Linked DNA regions of Homo sapiens. The protein of the gene in region 1 purifies or fractionates together with the protein of each later gene. This does not show direct contact. Each region holds a gene or a part of one and is shown on either strand. Other genes may lie near its edges.

What was found. Proteins that work in one complex are often made in the same cells at the same time.
Region 2: the proteins of FAM98A (region 1) and ATXN2 purify together in Homo sapiens (co-immunoprecipitation; 4 studies listed by BioGRID and IntAct, with this or other methods). This does not show direct contact.

Annotation. Positions count from the first base shown.
Region 1 is NC_000002.12:33,596,012-33,604,500, forward strand, and holds the start of FAM98A (protein FAM98A), read right to left. Parts: upstream 3,289-8,489; 5' UTR 3,211-3,288; coding exon 3,158-3,210; intron 1-3,157. UniProt on the Homo sapiens protein: Positively stimulates PRMT1-induced protein arginine methylation. Involved in skeletal homeostasis. Positively regulates lysosome peripheral distribution and ruffled border formation in osteoclasts.
Region 2 is NC_000012.12:111,512,273-111,519,763, reverse strand, and holds part of ATXN2 (ataxin-2), read left to right. Parts: intron 1-1,336; coding exon 1,337-1,515; intron 1,516-3,400; coding exon 3,401-3,610; intron 3,611-6,224; coding exon 6,225-6,407; intron 6,408-7,491. UniProt on the Homo sapiens protein: Involved in EGFR trafficking, acting as negative regulator of endocytic EGFR internalization at the plasma membrane.

The DNA of each region.
Region 1 (8,489 bases):
TTATTTCAGAAATAAAACTTAGGTTATCTTTTCTAAAAATTTTCCAGAAAACAACTAGATTATGTTTTTATTTTGAGATGAGGTCTTGCACTGTCACATAGGCTGAAGTGCAGTGAAGGCACAAGCCACCAAACCTGGCTTTTTTTTTATTTTTTATAAAATAGCCAGGGGTCTTACTATGTTGCCCAGGCTTAGTTAGGTTTTTAATGACTTCCTTTAAAAGTAAAAACTTTCCAGTTAACCATTTATATCATTTTTATAAATTTAATGCCAGTTAAGACTAGTAAGACATTCTAGTACCAAAGAAACGTCAGGTTAGGTTAATAAATATTGGCAGTTAATGAACTGGCGCATCTGAATCCTAATCCTTTGTAAGTGATTCCAATATAATTTTAAAAAATTTAAAAATGTTCAAACATTCATAAAAGATGACAGTCATAATGAACTCCAATCACCAATATTCTAAAATATAAGATTTCTGTCACTCCAAGTAATCTTAAATACATATTATTCAGATTGCTTTACATTCTCTTAAATATTGATAATAATGCTTACTTAAGATGATACAATAAATATGCTTAAGATAATATAATGTTTAGGCCAGGCGTGGTGGCTCACGCCTGTAATCCCAGCACTTTGGGAGGCCGAGGCAGGTGGATCACGAGGTCAGGAGACCAAGACGATCCTGGCTAACACGATGAAACCCCATCTCTAATAAAAATACAAAAAAATTAACCAGGCATGGTGGAGGGCGCCTGTAGTCTCAGCTACTCAGGAGGCTGAGGCAGGAGAATGGCTTGAATCCAGGAGGCAGAGCTTGCAGTTAGCCGAGATCGCACTACTGCACTCCAGCCTGGGCGACAGAGCAAGACTCCGTATCAAAAAAAAAAAAAAAAAAAGATAATATAATGTTGAGAACTACAGGTATGTTAGAGAAATGACAGTTCTCAAACCCTTTAAAATATGATTATAGGTTTATACAGTATATGCAACAAAATGAAAACAAATCATACATAAAAAAATGAGATCACATGTAGTCTGGCATCTAGATTTATAAACTATGTATTATTAGACACTGAAATCAAAAGACTAGGCCTAGAAGTTTCTCCTTGAGTTTCACATTTAGACTTCATTAGTTTATTCAACAAGTAGTTACTGAATTCCTACTGTGTGCCAGGTAAGAGATAAAAGATGACTATTTGCCAGGATCAGTGGCATACACCTGTAGTCCCAGCTACTCCGGAGCCTGAAGTGGGAGGATCGCTTGAGGCTAGGAGTTCGAGACCAGCCTGGTCACCAGAGCAAGACCTCATCTCTTAATAAATAAATAAATAGAAAAGGTAGTCATTTAATTCTAATATTTCTCAGTTAATCCTTTAAAAGTACATTTCAGTTAATTAAGGCTGACTTTTAATATTTGAATGCCACCAAACTAAGTAGTTAAGGTTAAAATTTATAACAGTTTTCAGAAAATCCATGGTTTACATTACACTCTATGTCAAGTAGTTATGTGATTACAATTACTACAGTAACAATTACTTGTACAGTACCCAAAAGAATAAAAAGTTAAAAAAAGGAGGGGGAAAAAAAAAGACAATAATGGGAAGAAACAGCATCCGTGGCCAATTCTTAAGTGACCACTATCCATGCAGAAAGACTACATTTAATAAGGTCTACCCCCTTCCTTTCATTCCACTCATTCCACTACAGTACTATAGTGTCATTTATTCCAGAAAGAAGCTTCTAGGATTTCATTTCCTTTCCCAGTAAAGGGACCCTCCTCAGGGCTCCTCACAGCATATTTTCCCAGTATCCTGTGAACCCCTCTTCCACCTCACCTTGTACTCTAAGGGCCTAACACTGCCACAAAGAAACTGTTCCTAAAAAAGTCCTAATGAATGAATGGTTTCATGTGTGAACAAGCGATTCAGTCTGAGATGTCAACTAAAGAGACTATTTTGCTGAATGACTTTAACATATGCCCTAATGAAAGAAAGAAGCCCCCTAAAGTCTGGAATATTTATAAAAATTCAGAGCAAGTTTCCAAGAAAAGAACAATAGTATTTCACTGTGACAAAGACAGATGATAAGCAAGACTACTTCGTTCCTAAAAATTTCTACTAGGGTAGTAAATTATTCAAATAGGCAGACTTTGGGAATCCTCAAGGTGTTTTTTCCTAAAGAAAGGTTTCTCTCAAAGGTTTCCTTGTCATGGAAAAACCTAAGAGAAAATTTTGATAAAGAACTTGTTACTTAGAAATACAGCTAGCTAAATCTGTACTTTGTTTTGATACCGTACCTGTAGGTAAGTATCTAACCATACAATTTGTTTCTGGAACCACATTTAGCCCAAGAGGGTCCACGTTCTCAAGTTTAATAGAGTACACTGATCTGGGTGACCCAGTGAGATAACAAACCCTATTTCCAGCTTCTAGATACTGATGAATTATGGTTGAATAAATATCAGGAGAAGGAGAGACACAATGCAAAACAAATACGCAGGTTCTTCGTGGGTGAAGACGACCCTGGTCTAATGGGGCTCAACGAGGCAGAGTATCACAGAGTCAAAGCAAACTGCTGGTGGTTCCCAGGGACGTGGTGATAGGTTAGATGCACAAGCGAGCTGGCCAGCGGAACAGATGCAGCGCCCATACAAGTGGCTTAGCGAAGCCTGGGTGCATGCAGAGATGACTGGGCAAAGGAGAAATTTTGAGAGAAGTGGGGTGGGGTAGGAGGAGGGGCTCAAGATGGGAGTAGGAAATTTGGAGAACAAGTAGGAAAGCAGAATCAACTTTGGCAACCTTTAGAGTTGAGGGGTTAAGGGGTAGGGCAGGAGGATGAAGCGAGGAGAGAAGCTCGGGGAGTGGGGGTGGCGAAAATCAGAGCCCAGACAATGACACGCATGACTGACAAACGCTGCGGGTAGCTCGCCTGCAGGGAGCACTGGGCAGGCCTAGGGGTGTTGGGATTGGAGGACCCCGAGCTAGCAGTGCAGACAGTGGACGTGGCATTGGGGGTGCCGGGGCCAAAGGGAAGCGACAGCCAGGAGCCACGGGGTGCGGCGTGGAGAGGCAGGTGTCTCAGACTGGGGCGCAGGAGGTGTTCCCAGGGGGCCGGCAGCGTGGGGCTTGGGAGACCCGTGCCCTGACAATCTTACCCTAGATCTTCCAACGACTCCAAGATGTCAGTCTCCATGAGGTCACACTCCATGCTACTGTGGTATTCAAATTTCCGAGTCGTCAGGCTCCCCTCTTCGCCGGCAACGCGTACACTCGCGCATGCGCGACTTCCCCGGAACTTCCAAATCCACAGCTGGCGCCTCAGCTCCCGCACTGCGCATGTCCGGAGCGTGCGCAAGAAACTTGGTCCCACTGACCGCCCCACCCCTGCCCACTAAAGAATTACAGGGCCCGCAGTTTTGCACATGCGCGTTACTGGATCGTGAAGCTAGCCGCCCAGAGAAGGGTAGGAGGACCGGCTGCGTGGCAGCTGGGCGTGGGGACCACGCGAAGGGGAGCGCTCTCGGCTCTCGTTATTGGGTGTACGCATGTGCGAATGTAGGGGGCGCGGCGGGCCGGGAAGGAGCTTGGAAGAGTCTCGGGACGCGGGTGGAGTCGGCTGTTAAACCGAGTCTCTGCATCCCAGACAGGAGATCGGGTGGCTCTTCGTAGGGTGCCGGCATGTGCTAGCCTTAGCTTGCAGGTCATGTAGAAAGGGAGAATTCTTGCGCTCCCGTCTTCAGGACGCGGGTGCGGGCCAAGTGCAGACGGCAGATAGCGTGCCATTTGATTTCCTCGTGGCTGCAGTAGCTTTATTTCAGGGTTAGGGATGAGCCAACTTTCCGCAGACTATGGATGTTCAGAAAGTTGGGTCGTTTTCCCTCATGCATTCTCTACCTGATGTCTAAAGCCCTTCCCAGACACTAAGCATGTTATTTTAAGGAGAAGGGGAGCTTCACTCCATAGCAAATAGAATAGAATATTTTTAAATCCACGTAGTTTAGACAGTGAATAAACTTTTTGGCTGTACTGTCATTACTTTTGACATTATTTGCCCGGGTGAAACATTGAGTTCACGATGTGGATGTGTTGTGATATCTTGGCAGTTACTGAGGGTGTGTTTAGAAATTACTGAAAAATCAGAAATGTTTTCAAAGTGATGGCATATTTAGAAAACTATATTTAACCATAAGTTGGCGTACTGTTAAATCGTGTAGGCATTTAATTAAAGAGTTTTCATATTGATACCTGTTGATTTTATTCTATAGTTCTCAAGCATTTTTGTGTCTGATGGATAGATGTTCCTATCCTTAGTAGTACCTTTTTCTTTTCTTTCTTTTTTTTTTTTTTTTTTTATGAGACGGAGTCTTGCTCTGTCGCTCAGGCTGGAGTGCAGTGGTGCGATCTCGGCTCACTGCAAGCTCCGCCTCCCGGGTTCACGCCATTATTCTGCCTCAGCCTCCCAAGTAGCTGGGACCACAGGCGTTCACCACCACACCCAGCTAATTTTTTGTATTTTTAGTAGAGACGGGGTTTCACCATGTTAGCCAGGATGGTCTCGATCTCCTGACCTTGTGGTCCGCCCACCTTGGCCTCCCAAAGTGCTGGGATTACAGGCGTGAGCCACCGCGCCCGGCCAGTAGTACCTTTTTCAGTTTCCTTATTTTGCATCATCTGAAGTGGGGGTAGGTTTTCTGCACTTACCATGGGCACTTGATATGGCCCATTATGATGCAGTCACCATAAGGCTGTGTGAATATTAGTCACATTCTACAGATGAGGACACTAAGGCTGAGTGGCTTAATAATCTTCAGCGATCTTAATGCCTGTAAGTATGAAACTAGATTTTGAGATTGAGGTATATCTAAATCCATATTCCTTCTTTTTTGACTAGTCAAATAAGGATTTATACGCAGGATGTGAAAAGAGGAAAATTTAGCTAGTTGAATTTGTTTAAACTTGTATATATTGTACATAATTACCTTATAATAATTGAATAATTATTTTCCTCATAGGGTTGTTGAAGGTGCTAAACAAAAAGTCATGCCTAATACAAAAATCAATTTTGAAAGAAAAAGGGTTTCATTCTTGACTCACTTTTGATGTAAGCTGTGTTCAATATTGAACTAATATTGAATATAATATTGTGTTCAATATTAGTGAATGAACGAGTGATGACTTCCCTAAAAGTATTAGTATTCCCTTTCTTTCTTTAAAAAAAATCCAGCTTTTGCAGGAATAGTATTCTCTTTCTAATTCACATCGTTAGCTTAAATGAAGGATTGCTGATATGAAATTTTTATATATTATGGTTTAAAGGAATTCTACAATGGCTTTCTCTGCAATTAAAAAAAGCTTTTAAATACTACTTAAACAAAATTGTGTTCCCTACCAGGCAGGCTCAGAAAGAAAGAAAAAAAATTGTCATCATTTTAATGGGATCTACGAGGAATCTTTTGCATTTTATTTAGAAATTATTTATGTTTATAATGGAACCTGATATCTGAAGACCTCTTTGAAACTGAGTTTACTAGAATGAAAGGAACAATGATTTGGAAGTGAGGAAGCTCTGGTTTTTGCATCAGATCAGTATAAGAAAGAATTTTTCTAACACTCTAAGAGTAGTCTTAAAGTGACTTAGGTATCGTTGAGAGATGATGAGCTTCCTGTCTAGAAGGTGTTCACCTAGAGGCTGAATAATTACTTAAGGGTACTCTTGTGAGAAGGCACACCCACAAGTGCCAGCACATGCCCTTTTACTGATGACTTTGATTCTAGATTCTTTCTCAAAAAAGAATATAAAATACCAACTTAAAACCCTTCTAGGGTCTGGCGCGGTAGTTCAGACCTGCAATCCCAGCACTTTGGGAGGCTGAGGCAGGACGATTACTTGAAGCCAGGGGTTCAAGGCCAGCTTGAGCAACATAGCAAGACTCTGTCTCTGTTAAAAAAAAAAAAATTAATTAAAAATGACTTCCAGGTGGGACCCAAGTGAGGCAGAGGGGCAGGGGCTGGCAGACCAGCGGTAAGCATGGCATATCAGGGCCTCACCATACGTCTCATTGCAATGAGCGTGTTTTAGGGCTTCACTGGTTTCTTCATGCCTTGGTTCATCCCTAAGGGTCCTAAGTAGGGAGTTATCATTACCATGTAGGTGACCTGTTCAGTTTGTTGCTGTCTCTTTTGGCTGATTGCAATCCTGGCCAACTCAACCCTCTCTTCAGACTGCAGTTGAAACATGAAATCATCTGGTATCCGAAGTGTCATTGGCCTTGAGGAAGACAGGCTTTACAGTGCTCAGTCTTAGCAGTCATGAGAAAAGAATTCCTTCTAGATGCAAAATCCAAACCACACCACTTTTCTTGACTTGCTTATTTTGGGCATCAGCTGCCTTAAACATTCACACCACATTTGAATGTCTAACACAATGCAGCATTTTTTTCTTCAACTTTTTTATGCTTTAATGAATTATGTGCCTACTTAACCTAAACTGTGCCAACTCCTCAAAATGATAATGCACTCTTTTGAGAGAGAAGATGCTTTTCTTCTGAGAAATGTGTTATTATGTCCTTGGAATTTGTGGATTTGTAGTGGCTCCTGCCTTCTCATAACATGGGAATCAGTGAACTATTTAGAACGTACTACTGCCTGACAAGACTCCAGTGGGGCAGTCAGTAGGAGAGGACGTTCAGAGGAAAGAGCTCTCCCAACAGAATTACACCAAATTATGTGTTCTTTTTTTTTTCTTTCTTCCTTTTTAAACAGAGTTTTGCTCTGTCGCTCCCGCTGAAGTGCAGTGGTGATCTCGTAGCCTCAACCTCCTGGGCTCAAGTGATCCTCCTGCCTCAGCCTCCCAAGTAGCTGGGACTGCAGCCGCTGGCCACCATGCCTGGCTAAGTTTTTTTATTTTTTGGTAGAGACGGTTTTGCCATGTTGCCCAGGCTGGTCTCAAAATCTTGGGCTCAAGCAATCCGCCCACCTTGGCCACTGCACCCCGTCATGAGCCACCACATCCGGCCCAAGGTATATTTTCAGCATGAATTTCTCATTTCTGCCATCTTTTGGAATAAATCATTTTTCTGTTTTCTATAGATAAAATAAAATATAAAATAAAGCTATTCTAGTGTCCCATCTTTGAGGGAGTCTGGTTACTGTCCATATTCTTAACTGCTGCTGCTACAGATTACCACAAATTTAGAGGCTTAAAACAAGACAGATTTATTATCTTACAGCTCTGGAGGTCAGACACCTGAAATGGATCTCACCTGGCAAAAATGGGCAGGTTTGCATTTCTTCTGGAATCTCTAGGAGAGAATCTGTTTTCTTCCCTGTTTTGGTTTCTAGAGGCCACCCACCTTCCTTGGCTTATGACTCCCCTCCTTCATCAAGACCAGCAACACCACTCCGACCCCTGCTACATGGTAGTCATGCCCTCTTACCTTCCTGCCTCCCTCTTTTACTTATAAGGACCCCCATCCTTGTGCCAGATAATCCAGAATAATCTCCCAACCTTAAGATCTTCAATTTAACCACACCTGCAAAGTCCCTTTTTCCATAGTCTCATGTTCCAACGATTATGATGCAGATAGTTTTCGGGGGAGGGGGGTCCATACCACACTGCCTTTCCTGGAGAGTAGAAACAATGAATGATCTTAAAGATCAGCCTTTTCTAGCTCTTCTTGAAGAGAATAAAGACAAATTATTTTTTTCACTTGTGAAAGAAATGTAAATGGGAAAATTGAAAACTGATTTCAGTTTCCAGAGGAACATGTTTTATAAGTCATAACCTTAAAAATTATTAGAAGGTTTTTAATTATATAGTAATTAAAAATTTATGCAGCTGACATCTTTAAGAAAGTTACTTCTAGCATCTATAGAAGTAATTTTTTATCATGGAAAAGAGGTAGGTATAAGCTCAAATATAAGATTTGTCATGGATTGGTTTCTAAGAGGTGATTAAATAGGCATCTAAAACAAATAACTTTTCTATCAAAAATAAAAGAACACTGTCTGAAAAATAGCAGCATTTTCCATTTTTAGTGAATTTATCTTTAGAATGACCCTCCAGCAAGGAGAAAATAGAAAGACCATAGATTTACTGGTGTTGCTCAGAAATGCAAGTTTGTATATGTTGCTAAATAAAGTCCTTTTCAGCTTGCACAGTGAAAGCACAACTCTTTTTTTTTTTAAGTTAGCATGTAGAATTAAATCTTGTATGGTCTCAAATACTTTATATTACTAAAGAATGCTGTTTTTTCAAATCATTCCTCTGGCTATGTTAGTATAGTTTCTGAGCCCTGGCAATTTTTAGAGAATATTACAAAGTTTGAGAACAACATCTTGCCTGTGTTTAAACTAAACAAAGGAAGTGCTATGTGTGTGAATGTACGTGTGTATATATATATATATATATATATTCACACACACACATTCACACACACAAATGTGTATATATATACAAAAACACACACAGAGATATATCCAGATCTT
Region 2 (7,491 bases), on another chromosome or scaffold:
AGTAGAATTGGTTTAAGATCTGTTAGAGAAAAGGTTATGGTGATCTTGGAAAATATGCTTTTGAGAGTAAGCTCTGTGGAGCCAAGTGTTGGTATATCACGGTGAGCAATCCAAGATCTTGAAGAGCTTGTTAAAATAGTTATCTGGTGGGGGACACGTGTAACAATCACAGCAGTACAATATGATTTGCTTGGTTAAAGGCATGTTCAAAGTACTAGGAACATACAGAATGAGGAGGAGCTAGCATAACCTGTAGAGTCAGAGAAAACCTCATTGAGGAGGTGACATTTTGTGATAAGATAATAGGGTCTTTGACACTTAGAGAAGAGTTGGGAGAAGAGTTTATCACCTGATGAAAAGCCATGTACAAGCATGGCTATGAGAAAATTTGGCCAGCTCAGGAGAGGGCTGGTTGTTGCATGTGTCTGGAACACAGGATCTGTGTCAGGTGCAGCAGTGGCAGTTGATAGTAGGAACTGAGGTCATTAAAGGACTTGGCATGTCATGCTAAAGAGCACCCTGTTGGAAGGAGATGGGGTGAATAAACCCTGGGGCATTGAGGACTGGCTGAGACACAGAGAACAGTTAGTGCACTGAAATAGTTCAACTGTGAGAATTTGGTAACCACCTAGTTAAGGGATGAGCCTGAGGTTTATTTGATAACTAAGTGACTTAATGGATGTACTGGTAAGAGAGAGAGGAAACATGGAGCAAGTTTGAGGGGAAAAACAGTGACTCCGTTTGTGCAGCTAATTGCATATGTGGGCTTGTGGGTCTTTCATTTATTCATAAACGTGTTGAGAAATACCTGCTACCTATCTAGTAAAGTAAGAGATGCATCCTCTCTTAAAGGCAGTCAGCTTAGAGTCTGGTGATTTGAATTGACATGTCCACTGATAGATGTTGACACTGTGAGACTGGCGGTTCAGTTTGAGGTTTCATCAGCATTGCCGATATTGGAGCCATGAAAAACCAAAGAACAGCCAGTGAGAGAAGAGATCTCAGAGAAAATAAAATTGAGAAAGTGAAGGACAAAAAATGTTGTGAAGATAGACCAAGATTGATGGAATCAGCCATAGAGAGGTCAAGTGGGATGAGAATGAGCACGCATCTGTTAAACTTTGTGCTTAGGAGCAGAATCTAAGGGAAGGGACAGTCCAGAGGTTAGAACTCAGGGTAAGATGGAAGAACAGGGGCATCTGGGAGTGAGGCAGTTTGGTTTAGTGTAGAACCTTTTTGTAACAAGCATTCCCTTCTGTCTAGATGACTTTTAGATATGTTTCATTGGCTTGGTACCTTTTAGAATAAAATGATTTAGAGGATCTCTCATTTTCAGGGAAAATAAATATATTCCTCCTGGACAAAGAAATAGAGAAGTCATATCCTGGGGAAGTGGGAGACAGAATTCACCGCGTATGGGCCAGCCTGGATCGGGCTCCATGCCATCAAGATCCACTTCTCACACTTCAGATTTCAACCCGAATTCTGGTTCAGACCAAAGAGTAGTTAATGGAGGCAAGTATTTTGACCAGACTTGTCAATATCATTGATAAAATAGTTTTCTAAATACTTAAAATACTTAAAATAGTTTACATAACTGATATGAATGTGCACTTTAATGATTTGGTGAGTAGCTTTCACTTCAGCATTACTTAAAATTGGCTTTTGTGGATATTAAATTAGTAAAACATTGTATATGTCATTGACATATATATTATTTAGCATGATGAAATATTCATGATGTACTAAGATAAAGTGCTACATTTAACCCAAGACAATCACTTGGCCAAAAACACTTCACATATAAAGAAATTGGAAACTTTGGGTAGGTTCTCAATTTTAAAAACACTGGATAATAAAATTTTTTAGACATAATTTATATGGAAAATTCTAACCTATGTGCAACACTGTGGTTAATATAGATCAATTTTCATTATTTGTTTCTATATTATGCTTACTTCAAGAAAGGATCTGAGGTAACTTATAATACAAGACATGATCAAGAGTCATGTGAAGAAAGTGACTAGAGAAATTTGCTTAAAAAACAACAAAAACAACCCTTAGTCTAAGGGTGGATGTTACAGTTTAGCAACTTAAGTAAAAGAAACCTGAATCTTTAGTAGGAAGACATTTTTTACTCTACCTCTAAATCTAGGTTGAATATATCTTGTAGGTTGTGGATCTTTTCCATAAATCAGGGATACTGAACAACAGTTCTATGGATGGTATGGAAATAGTAATAGCAATAGTATGTTACTAACTTTGTGGGAAAAGAGTGGACATTCAATTTTAGCTATTTAAATTTGGAAAGTTAGATGAAAATAGAGAACACTAAGTTTCCAATTTCATTTGTTTTCATTGAGTCTTTTCTCCAGAATTCCTCTCCAAATGGACACTCTTGAGTATTTTCAGTACTTAATATTGGGGGTGAAATTTCTTTGCTCACTGAGGAAAGATTTTAGTTGTTTATAAACAGAATTTTAAAGTTAAAAAACCTGAAGGGGGCTGAGAAATATATGATACTTAAGTGTGTGGAACCCTATGGAGAGGAGACCTGGACTGTTTGATAAGATTAAGGTAAGTGATATGTAATGTTAAATACTAGCTGTATCTTTACCTAGGCATATCCATCAGTATAAATTTATTTGGTGATGACTGCTTTGTAGTTGCAGTATTTATTAAGCAGTCGCTTAGATAAGTGTTTAACTGTATAAATTATTTAGAAGGTCTCCCTTTTTCTAGTTTAATGAGGTCAAGACTTTTTTTTTGAAATAGCAATGAATATTATCATTTGATACTCACAGGAGTCACAAACTCTAGAAGAGTAATGTTTTATTTCTACTTAAATGGGACTTGCTTAATAAGATTCCAAACTGAGTTCTGGGTTCAAGTGTAAACCTGATGAAAATCATAGATAATTGTAAGGAACCAGCATTTCTAATTGGATATAATAGCTACTGCTTATTTTCGTTATGCCTCAGAGTTAAAACTAATACAGTAAATAATCTTACTCCTGAGTAGGAATTATTGTGATTTATTATGTGAAATTATCTAGTGTATGTTATATTCCTTTAAACAACCAGTTACTGAGAAACAGTTATAGAAGCAGGATTAATAGGCAAAGTCTTAACTGTCTTCTTCAATAGTGTGTATAGATCCTAATTAACCCTTTGGGAACGTGTATTCATTTAAACAGACTTAATCTTAAGGAGGTTAAAGTAAAATGTGAATTTATGTCAGTTAAGTTATGCTAAAACTTATCACAAATCAAATGACTGTCCTCAAAGGGTTAAAATGTACAAGAAATCATTTTTGTCATTTTACTTTTTTTCTGTTTACTTTTTTCCCTCATTTTTTTCTTTAGTTTTTATACTTTCCTTCATATCATTTGTTCTGTCAGGTGTTCCCTGGCCATCGCCTTGCCCATCTCCTTCCTCTCGCCCACCTTCTCGCTACCAGTCAGGTCCCAACTCTCTTCCACCTCGGGCAGCCACCCCTACACGGCCGCCCTCCAGGCCCCCCTCGCGGCCATCCAGACCCCCGTCTCACCCCTCTGCTCATGGTTCTCCAGCTCCTGTCTCTACTATGCCTAAACGCATGTCTTCAGAAGGTACAATACCACAATTTGTTCATGTTTTTGTTTGTCTTTGTTTAACTCCTATGTGAGTTTATAATTACAAAATAGTTTCCTCTTCATTATTTAATAACCTATAATTTCTGTGTTTTAACTTTAGTTTATTAAAACTATTTCTATTAACCTTTTGTTCATTAGAGAGAAATTTGATAAATGTGTGAAGCTATAAACTCTCTTGAATTGTTGTTAAAAAGGGGGTTTATCTCTGCCTGATAATTATGCTTCTTTACAGCCCCAGAAGGGTCTGCCCCACAGCCTTCCCCCTCCTTATTTGCACTGTATACAGTAGTTAAACAAATGAACTTTCTTCAGCCAGTCTTGAACTTAGGTTCATTTTACAGCTCTTTGGCCAAGGTCCTAGTGAACCTTCCTATTGGCCATAAGCAGGGATGGTGTTTTCTGGGTCTTTTTTGAGAGCGACAGCCCATGTAGCTGACTTTGCGTGTCTGCCCTTAGATTAAAGTAGTTGATTTTTAGAATGCCAGAAGAATTCTAAATTTAACTGAGTAATTTTTTTAAAGTTAGCTTTGCAATCTTACATAGTGAAAGGCTGCTTTAATCTGGAAGAAGTCCTTGATCTGAGATAAAATTGATAAAAACGACATATGAATTTGAATATTTAGCTATTTCTTTCCTCGTCAAAAATAAGAATAAAATCTTGTAATTCTTATTCAGTATTTGGCGCTAAATCCATCATTGCCACATATCAAATACAGGGATATGTTGTAGAAAGGTAACATTCTAATTTAAATGCCACCCATATATTAAAAACCTGTTTTCTGAATCATAATGTCCTTTTGATACTAGTTCTGAATATTTGTGTTAAAATTTTAATCTGATTTGTTCATTAAAATTAGTTAATATTGCTTATGTTGGGACTAATAAAGTTTTCCGCACAAAATGTGTTTCTCCTGCTTCCCTGGAGAAAACTGTATTGGCTACTTTTAAATAAATTGTTACCATCTAAGCAGGCAGGTCATATGACTTTGACTGAAGCATCTAACCTTGAAGAGCAAGTTCCACTGATTTTCAAGGTGACTTCTTTGCTCAAAAGGGCCTTAATAGTGGTCACTAAATGCAAAATTCTGTTGATATTTTTCTTGTAGTCCATCATTTGAGTAAGCGATGTTTATTTAATGAGAATATATTAAATAAAACATGATCATTAATGACTGTGAACATCTTTATTACATTAAGATTTAAGGACTGCTCATGTATTAACTTCACACAGAAATATACTTTCTGTGTCATTCAGAGATGTTGAATATTTCCATTTGAAAATTATAGTGTATAACATTAGCATTCTTCTAAAGATCATGTTCGTGTTTAAATTCCTGTTGGAAGCCAGGCATGGTGGCTAACGCCTGTAATCTCAGCACTTTGGGAGGCTGAGGCAGGTGGATCACTTGAGGTCAGGAGTTTGAGACCAGCCTGGCCAACATGGTGAAACCTCGTCTCTACTAAAAATACCCAGCTACTTGGGAGGCTGAGGCAGGAGAATCACTTGAACCTGGGAGGCAGAGGTTGCAGTGAGTTGAGATCGTACCACTGCACTCCAGCCTGGGCGACAGAGACAGACTCTGTCTTATAAAAATAAAAATAAAATAATAATTCTATTGGCAACATATATTAATTTGAAGTTCTAAAGAGTTTGGCAGCCGGGTGAGAGAGTGAGGAGATTTGGCTTTGACATTAGGGAAGTTTTCGCTTGGTGTTAACACCAGTAGGCTTCTCTGATGAGGGCCATTCTGTCCACTCTTTTACCTGATAGATTGGTCTAATGCACAGTAGACTGATTTAGAAAGAGTAGTCACTAGTGGCATGGCAGAATCAATAATGTAGAATTTTGACAATTCATATAGTGCTGATTTCTCCCCCAAATGTCAGTTATTTTGGTCATCTATTAATAGACTAATACAAGTCATCCCTTTAATAGAATTTTCAGCTCACAGCCTGCTAAGCCTAAGAAACTGCTTACAGGTTACTGCTTACTGTTTTAAGCCGAGTTTTAAAATTGATGATCATGATAGAAGAGATAAATAAACTAAAATTTTAGAGAAATTTAAGAAGGGTATGTACATATGTTTTAGTGGTATCGGGGTGTATAGGGATTAATAGTCTTCTGTTTAAATTTTTTTTTTCTAATTTTAGAAGTAATGTAGAAAATTCGGGTCAGGGAAAGGTAAAATATATGGAAAGTTAAAAATATTTTATCATGTAGTCATAATTTCTAGTAACATATTTCTTTACAAATAAGACATAGTTGAAACAGATTGCTACAGTTCTTTTAAGAGTTGACATCTTATTGTTGATTTCTTACCACCAACTTCATCCCTCCCTTTCTTTAAAAATAAAGGGAAATAATAAAATTTATTTATAAAACTTTGTGGCATTCCACAAAATAATTCTGAAAGAATTAGTATGGCCAAAAAAATATGTATGGTGTTTTTTTTTTTTCTATTTTTAACCAAGGAAAAACTGTAGAGTGAGTGAGTGTGTGTGCATGTGTGTGTGAATGGGTGTATTTAGCAGAAAAGTAGTACTGATGAATATCATGGAATTTATGTGATGTTCACTGTTTCTTCCTTAGGGCCTCCAAGGATGTCCCCAAAGGCCCAGCGACATCCTCGAAATCACAGAGTTTCTGCTGGGAGGGGTTCCATATCCAGTGGCCTAGAATTTGTATCCCACAACCCACCCAGTGAAGCAGCTACTCCTCCAGTAGCAAGGACCAGTCCCTCGGGGGGAACGTGGTCATCAGTGGTCAGTGGGGGTAGGTAACACTTGGGCATAATGATGGTACTCATTTTGTCATTACACTAGATATAAAGAGGGCTGAGCTACAACTCTGTTTGAGGAAGTGTAAGTATGTATATGTTAAAAATAGTAGAATCACCAGGAATTGGGAAACCCATATTTTTATTCTGGGCTCTACCACTTATTCATCATATATTAAAGCAAGTCAGACACTCATTCTGAAGTTGAGATTTCGCAGTGAGTAAAGTGTTAATAATTCTTGCCTAGTCTACATTATGGGATTGTGATGAGATTCCTATAAGGTTCATAAATACAGATATATTGTAAAACTATAAAGTTTTGTAAAGTACCTCTCTAATATGAGGCAAACACAGTATGTAACACTATTTGGAGGGACCGTATTTCCTTATCTTTTTAGCAGCTTTGTTTATCAGTACATTCTATAAACATTTATTTTTGGCTTACATTGTAGTGTGTTTCTATAGCATCTGTATATGGCACTAATTCCCAACTATATTTCCATAATAAGGAATATCAAATACAAATAAAGGGTCCAAGTTTTATTTGTGATTAGCATAAGGAATATGCTGACAGCAGCTATAAAAGTATAAAAATTAGGCTGGGTGTGGTGGCTCACGCCTGTAATCCCAGCACTTTGGGAGGCTGAGGTGGGCGGATCACAAGGTCAGGAGATCGAGACCATCCTGGCTAACACGGTGAAACCCCGTCCCTACTAAAAGTACAAAAAAAATTAGCCGGGCATGGTGGCGGGTGCCTGTAGTCCCAGCTACTTGGGAGGCTGAGGCAGGAGAATGGCATGAACTCGGGAAGCGGAGCTTGCAGTTAGCTGAGATCACGCCATTGCACTCCAGCATGGGCAACAGAGCAAGACTCTGTCTCAAAAAAAAAAAAAAAAAAAAAGTTTAAAAACTAGACGTTGACATGATTTTACAATAAGGCTGACTGCTTTTGCTACTTTGCCAATCAGTCCTTAGTGCTTTGTTCCCATAACTGTGGTAAGCAAGAGCTTACAAAGAATACTTAAAACAAACAAACAAACAAACAAAAAAAACACTTTTTCTCTTTTAATCAGTCCAGAG